2 linked regions of the Homo sapiens genome follow. The protein of the gene in region 2 purifies or fractionates together with the protein of the main gene of each other region. This does not show direct contact. Each region holds a gene or a part of one and is shown on either strand. Other genes may lie near its edges. The genes, in order: DLAT and SLC36A1.

Region 1 (3,822 bases), on a different chromosome or scaffold from region 2:
TGTGGCTGTAGTTTACCCTCTCTTGCTTTGGTTGCTAAAGAAACAACATCATTAGCAATGGTTTCCACTCCTTTTATATGTGCATTAAACACAATAGGTGTGATGAGTCCTGCAGGAGTACTGACCGCAACACTGACATCAACAACATGATTTCTGTTTAAAAAGAAAAATAAATATAATAAAAAACTGTTTATTAAGAGCCTGTGTGCCAGGTTAAGCAAGAATATTTATATTTACTTCAAAAATTTTTTGAACCAATGTGTGTTATTGTTCAGCCAAAGACAAAAATTAAGATGTCTATCCTAATTTTTACATTTTGCTGTGCCCTCTCCTTGACTTGTAGTTATTAAAAATCAAAGAGAGGTCCGGGAACGGTGGCTCATGCCTGTAATCCCAACACTTTGGGAGGCTGAGGTGGGCGGATCACTTGAAGTCAGTAGTTTGAGACCAGCCTGGCCAACATGGCGAAACTCTGTCTCTACCAAAAATACAAAAGTTAGCTGGGCATGGTGGTGCACAGCTGTAGTGCCAGCTACTCAGGAGGCTGAGGCAGGAGAACCACTTGAACCTGGGAGGTGGAGGTTGCAGTGAGCTGAGATCACACCACTGCACTCCAGCCTGGGCAGCAGAGCGAGACTCCATCCCCCAACGCTGCCCCTGCCCCTGACCCCACCGCCTGCCAAGAAAAAAAAAAAAAAAAAAGAATGAGAAATGTGTCAGCAGCAGTAGGTTGGTTTCGCACATATCGTCTAACATCCCCTGCCGTCTGCCTTGACCGACACGTGAATGCAGCTGAAAGAAAACCCCACCAATCAGAACTCCTTGGATTTTGAGTGGACGTACATTGGCTGCAGTTGAGTCTCTGCAAGTAGTTTGAGCAGATGAAAGGAAGAGTGAAGGGAAAGAACTGCATTGTAGCAAGAAATAGGAGTGCTCAGGATACATGGGTGGTGGTACCTCAGAAGAACGTAAAAGTAAGGGGTCCCAATCTTTTTTTTTTTTTTACACAATATCAGATCTTCTGTTATCAAGGAGTCCCAATCTTTTCTACAGAATGTGTCCCTATGCATCTGGATCTTATCTCAGAATACCTTTTTAACACTGAAAATACTCAAATTACTAGAAAAAAGAGAGAAACTATACTGAAATTCAGTTATCAAACGGTTCAAAAGCAAAATTATGACAAATGTGCTTCTGTATTCACTCAATAATAAGATCTTGTTGCAGGTCTAATAATGGCTATCATTTTGAAGCAGGGATGAACAAAATAACATTTTGAGATATATACAACTACAATGTGATATGAAAATAACTGATTTTTATTGGTCACCAGACACAAGTACTGTTAACATTTGATCTGTTCTCTACATTTATAAAAGGAAGAAATGCTAAATGTTAGTAGAAAAAAAAAAAGGTGATTCCCCCCCCCCACCCCCCCCTTCCCCCACCCCAACTGAAGTTCACAAGCTCATGGATTCATGGATTTTATCCGTGGTCTCCTTGGGGTCTGCCTAAGGGCCCCTGCTAGTGTTCTGCAATCGAGAAAAAGTTAAGACTTCAAACAAAGGCACAGCTCTGCCTCCAAAGAACTCCAGCTCTTTCTAGGCACAAGCTCCAAAAAGATCAGTGGGTACCAAATCCCCCAATTTGCCTAAGTTGGCTAGAGCAGGATTTTGTCACTTGCAAACAAACACAGGAACCTGCTCTAATAAAAATACCGTGTATGACTCATTAATTACCACAGAACTGTAGCCAAGGTATCACACAGCAAATACTGCTTTCTTGAATAAATTATTACAATATTGCTTGTTCAATCATCTTCCCTTTGAGACAGTAAGGACAGTATTCCCTATATTGTTCACCACTGAATCCAGTAAACAGTACATGTTAAATAAATGTTGAATGGGTGTATGAACAAGTAAATGAATGGTGTTTGGTTAGAATTAACAGACAACCTCAATTTCTTCATCTAAGTATAGAAATATCTTGATATTCCAGGTTCAGTTCCAGACCACCAAAATAATATTGCAATAAAGCGAGTCACATGAATTTTCTGATCTCCTAGTACATACAAAAGTTATGCTTAACACTACACTGTTGTCTACTAAGAGTGCAATAGCATCGTGACTAACAAAAAACCAATGTATACACCTTAATTTAAAAATACTTTATTGCTAAAATATGCTAAAAATCACCTGAACTTTTAGTGAATTGTAATTTTTTGCTGGTAGATCTTGCCTTGATGTTGATGGCTGCCGACTGATGAGGGATATCAATTATCTTAGCTGTATCTTCTGAATAATTTGCTGCTTCACCCTGTACTTTTATGTTATTATGGCCTCCTTTCCTTCAACCTCATGAGCCAACCTCTGCTAGCCTCAAACTTCTGTTACGCGGCTTCCTCACCTCTATCAGCCTTCAAAGAATTGAAGAGAGTTAGGGCCTTGCTCTGAATTAAGCTTTGGCTTAAGGGAATGCTGTACCTGGTTTAATCTTTTATCTAGACCACTCAAAACTTTCTCCGTATCAGCAACAAGGCTGTTTCACTTTCTTATCATTCGTGTGTTCACCAGGATAGTACTTTTCATTTCTTTCAAGAGCTTTTTCTTTGTATTCACAAGTTGGCTGTTTGGCACAAGAGGCCTAGCTTTCAACCGATCTTGGCTTTTGACATGCCTTACTCATTGAGCTTAATCATTTCTAGCTTTTGATTTAAAGTAAGAGACGTGAAAGTCTTCCTTTCACTGAAACACTCAGAGGCCATTGTAGAGTTACTAATTGGCCTGATTTCAGTTTTATTGTGTCTCATGGAATAGGGAGGCCCAAGGAGAGGGAGAGAGACAGAGGAACAGCTGGTTGATAATTCTATCAATTCTATCAACCAGTCAGAACACATGCAAAATTTATCAATGAAGTTTGCCATCTTATATGGGCATGGTTCATGGGGCATTGAAACAATTACAATGGTAACATCAAAGATCCTTGATCACAGGTCACCATAACAGATACAATAATAAAGTTTGAAATACTCTAGGAATTGCCAAAATGTGACACAGAGACAGGAAGTGAGCACATGCTGTTGGAAAAATGGTGCCATCAACTTGCTTGACAGAGGGTTGCCACAAGCCTTCAATTTATAAAAAAGCACAATAAATCAAAGTGCAATAAAGCGAGATACTCTCACAAGTAGATGGTTCTCACTTCACACCCACACGGTAACAAATATTGATGAGGACATAGAGAAACTGGAACACTTATCCACTATTGGTGGGAAGGTAAAATGGTGCAACCACTTTGAAAAATAATGTAGAAGTTTCTCTAAAAATTAAACATAATTTTACCCTATGACTCAGGTATTCCACTCCTAGGAATCTACTGAAGAGAAATAAAAATATATGTCCACACAAATAACTGTATGTAAATACTCATAGTAGCATCATTCATAATAGCAAAAAACTGGAAAACATGTTAACTGGTGAATGATAAAGAGGTATATTGATACGATTAAACACTATACAGCAATAAAAAAGAATAAACTACAGATACATGCTACAACATGGATGAGTCTCAAAAACATTTCGTTAAGTGAAAGAAAGTAGATGCAAAAGACCACATATTTTATGACTCCATTTCTATAAAAGGTCTAGAAAATACAAATCTATAGACTCAAGCACTATAACAAATTGCCCAGGGGCTGAAGGTGAAAATAAGAATTTACTATAAATGAGCATGAGTGATCTTTTGGGGGTGATGAAAATTTCTAAAATTAGATTGTGGTAAAGACTGCGTAATTCTGCACCTTTAACAAAAATCAAGAAATTG
Region 2 (3,822 bases):
CACTGAACACACTAAGAAATAATTCACAGGTCAGGCATGGTGCTCATGCCTATAATCCAAGCACTTTGGGAGGCCGAGGCAGGCGGATCACTTGAGCCCAGGTGTTTAAGACTAAGTGGGCAACATAGCAAAACCCTATCTCTACAAAAAAAAAAAAAAAAATACAAAAAGTAGCCAGGAGCATGCCTGTAGTCTCAGCTACTTAGGAAACTAAGGTGGGAGGATCACTTGAGCCCAGGAGATGGAGGTTGCAGTGAGCCATGATTGTGCCAGTGCACTCCAGCCTGGACAACAGAGCAAGACCCTGTCTCAAAAAAATAAAAGGAAGTAACCCATGAAACTCATGGAAGTGTTTGGGGTTCCTATTTGCACCCCCTAACTAGGGGTTTTTGCTGAGCCCTTGACTTCTAGAAGAGCCAGGTGTGTGCATGCATATGTGCAGTAGGTGTAGAAGTACTTCCATGTATTTTGTTCCTTGGCAAACTAGATAAAAGGGTGGGGCAAACCAGAAATATAAAAGGAACCCAGCTCAAAAACTTGTCTCTAACACTTCCGACATATTAAAATATTAATTTAGGTTAAGAAGGTCCTCCAAATCAACCTCTACCTTAATCATACCTGGCATGTTTTCTATATAAATCCTTGCGTGGATCCTATGCCCCAGGCTGGAAGTACTCAACCAGTCCTCTAAGCCCCAGCAAATTACTTTATCTTGTACCACCTGTGATGGGACTGTAATACCTGCCATCAACTACAGATAGGCTTCCCTGGTCACCTACACTGTATCACAACATCAAGGCAGGAAGGGAAACTCGGAACAAAGTATACCCTGGAAAATGTCACAATACAAGCCTGAGGAAGGTATCTTCTGATTTGTTCGATTTCCAAGAAACAAGGACATAATTTTGTCCAAAACCTATGAGCTACTATCCTAAAGTTGCTAGTTGGTAGGTTTTGAGCTTCAGAGATGTCTCTATAAACATAAAAATCCAGACCTCATCTGCTAAATATTGCTTAGACAAGTTGATATCTGAGATCAAAAAGGAGCAAAAACTGCAAAGGAAACTACAGAGAAGGAAGCTTAGAAGTATCTTACGATAACAAGCATGACCTCTGAAGGGAAGCCATCACATGCCATTGGCTGTGTGTGGAGATGCTTCTGCATGGGGGCTGCCAATGCTGATAAGGTTGGAGGAAAGAGGGGCAGGGTGATCCACACTGCTGCCAGCTGTGCTCTAAGCAATCTACCACCAGCTAACTCCCACTGCAGGCTAATGGGGAATCTACAAAAGCATACCCCTGAGAAATAAGCTACAGAAACAGAATCTTAGAGGACTGGTTGAGTACTTCCAGCCTGAGGCATAGAAATCAGCTAGTGGTGGTGACGGGCCAGGAATGTGGACAGACATTCTTCTAGTTCCACCCCAGTTCGCAAGAGAAAATGCCCTGTACCAGCAGACAGTGCAGGCAGAGGGAGCTTCTCCAGTGATGAGCCCAGAAGCTTCCATGGTCCGCTTGGGCAGTCATCAGGAATGGCATAAGTCTAGGACATGAAGGATCTCTCAGTAAGTCACACTCAGTCCACAAGAAAACACAGAAAAGGTAATAGCTAAGCTTGAGGAATAAACAGGACTGCAAAAGCTGAGATGCTGGGACACAGAGAAAAGTCAGAGGTCTGCTGAAATCAGGAGTAGCTGGGAAACTAACTCAATGGAGTAGCAAAACTTCCTCTGAATTTTCTAATTCAAGTGGTGAGCCCCACACAGCCAGCATAGCTTTGTGGTGGAGTCCTCAATTTTTCTTTACATTTGGGGAAAGTGAGACCTGAAGCGGGCCAAACTCAGCCCAAATGAGTCTGGGGTCCCAGTTTCTGGAGACAAGAGATTAAGCCCTCTTTGGAGAATGCAAAGTCTATCTTTCCTTTCCTACCAACCCTGAATTTTTTAAGTGCAGAAGTTAATTCTTCTCTCTTCCCACTTCTTCAGTCAAATGAATACTGATTTGGTGATGGGGCAGAATTCGGGGGGAGACTTTGCAAAGGAAGCTTCCGATTATGCTTGGAAATTATTTGGGGTTCTAGCACAGATGACACACTTTTAAATTAAAAGAATGTCCTCTGTAGAAGCTTTTTTTAAGTCCAAGCTCTCACTTGGCACCAGCCTTGGGGGGCCAACACAGCTGAAAGGAAAAAAGAGTAAGAAACTGCCTAGAGAGTGGCAGCCCAGGAAGGCAAATCTCAGCGCAGTCACTCGCCCAATCTCTTCACTGCTGACCTTCATCTGTAAAGTGGAGGACTGATGAAATTGGGGGGAAAAATAAGTCCAAGGGAGGCTTAGGAACACGAATCCCACCCAGGAGAGGAGAAGGTAACAGCTACTCACGTTGTGCTATTGCTTTGACCAAAGCGCTGGTAGGAGCCCGGGGAGGAGAGGTTGTTGAGGCCTTCCGACGGGCTCTCCTCAGGGCTCACGTCCGTGGAGCTGTAGTCGTGGTAGTCTTCATTCCGAAGTCTCTGCGTGGACATGGCAGCTGGGGGGACAGGGCCAGCATTAAGACCTCCTGCAGCTGGAGCCTTTAGCTCCATATTTGGGGTGGCCTCTGGGGTAGAAGCTGTCATTGTCAGAGTTGCTCACTGTGACAGCTCCACTATGGATTAAGTATGAAAGTGCCTGGTACCAAGGGAAATGGAAAAGTGCAAAGTACACAGAGGCGGGCTGAGTTCACTTGACTTCTGACTCCCATCCTTCCCATTGGTATACGTGGTGCTACACTCATAAATTTCTTAATTTTCCGGAGTACAGCTAGACAAGGCAGAAGTGAGGCACTGCTTGGGAGGAGTGGGGGAAAATGAAAGAGAAGTGCTTCCTGGAATTCCGCATTCCCTATTCCTTAGGTCAGGATTATCTACTCCTTTCTGAGATAATGTCTTGGACCTTGTGCAATAGTTCAATCGTGTGTGTATATATATATATATAAATATCCCATATATATATATATATATATACGTATATACACGTGTATGTATATATATACACGTATACACATATACACACGTATATATATATATGTACAAGCTCTTGGGGGGATGGAAATCTGGGTATTTCTCATCGTATACTCTTTTTCCTCTGCCTTCAATAGAGAACACATTTCACTCAAGAAATCCTCTCTGGGCTGGGTGTGGTGGCTCACGCCTGCAACCCCAGCACTTTGGGAGGCCAAGGCGGGCGGATCACCTGAGGTCCGGAGTTCAAGACCAGCCTGAGTAACATGGAGAAACCCCGTCTCTACTAAAAATACAAAATTAGCCGGGCGTGGTGGTGCATGCCTGTAATCCCAGCTACTCGGGAGGCTGAGGCAGGAGAATCGCTTGAAACCGGGAGGCGGAGGTTGTGGTGAGCCGAGATCGTGCCATTGCACTCCAGCCTGGGCGACAAGAGCGAAACTCCATCTCAAAAAAAAAAACAAACAAACAACAAAAAAAAAGAAAACAGAAATCCCCTCTGGATCATCCAATTCTGCTGAAACTCCCACCAAATCCCAGAGCCACACATGCCGTTCTCTTTCTCTCTGCTGTGACCACAGGCTGATCCTATACTCTCTGGAGGCCACCAGTAACTCTTATACCCTGACCCTGGGACTCCTTTCTTGCTGCCAACCTGAGTACTGAGAAATGGTAGCTGAAAGCAGCTCAGAGGAGGACCAGGAAACTGAAAGGTGCTCACCCTGGCCCTCGTCTCAACATCTCCCATCCACAACTCTTCTTCCTTTTTATTTTTATAGATGTGCTCATTTTTAAAATGGTGAGAGAAAAAAATGTCCTTT

The links.
Region 1: the proteins of SLC36A1 (region 2) and DLAT purify together in Homo sapiens (affinity purification with mass spectrometry; one large-scale study listed by BioGRID and IntAct). This does not show direct contact.

What each region holds. Positions count from the first base shown.
Region 1 is NC_000011.10:112,056,234-112,060,055, reverse strand, and holds part of DLAT (dihydrolipoyllysine-residue acetyltransferase component of pyruvate dehydrogenase complex, mitochondrial isoform 2 precursor), read right to left. Parts: intron 154-3,822; coding exon 1-153.
Region 2 is NC_000005.10:151,457,495-151,461,316, reverse strand, and holds part of SLC36A1 (proton-coupled amino acid transporter 1), read right to left. Parts: exon of another isoform or gene 2,618-3,822; coding exon of another isoform or gene 2,525-2,617; coding exon 2,382-2,524; intron 1-2,381. UniProt on the Homo sapiens protein: Electrogenic proton/amino acid symporter with selectivity for small apolar L-amino acids, their D-enantiomers and selected amino acid derivatives such as 4-aminobutanoate/GABA.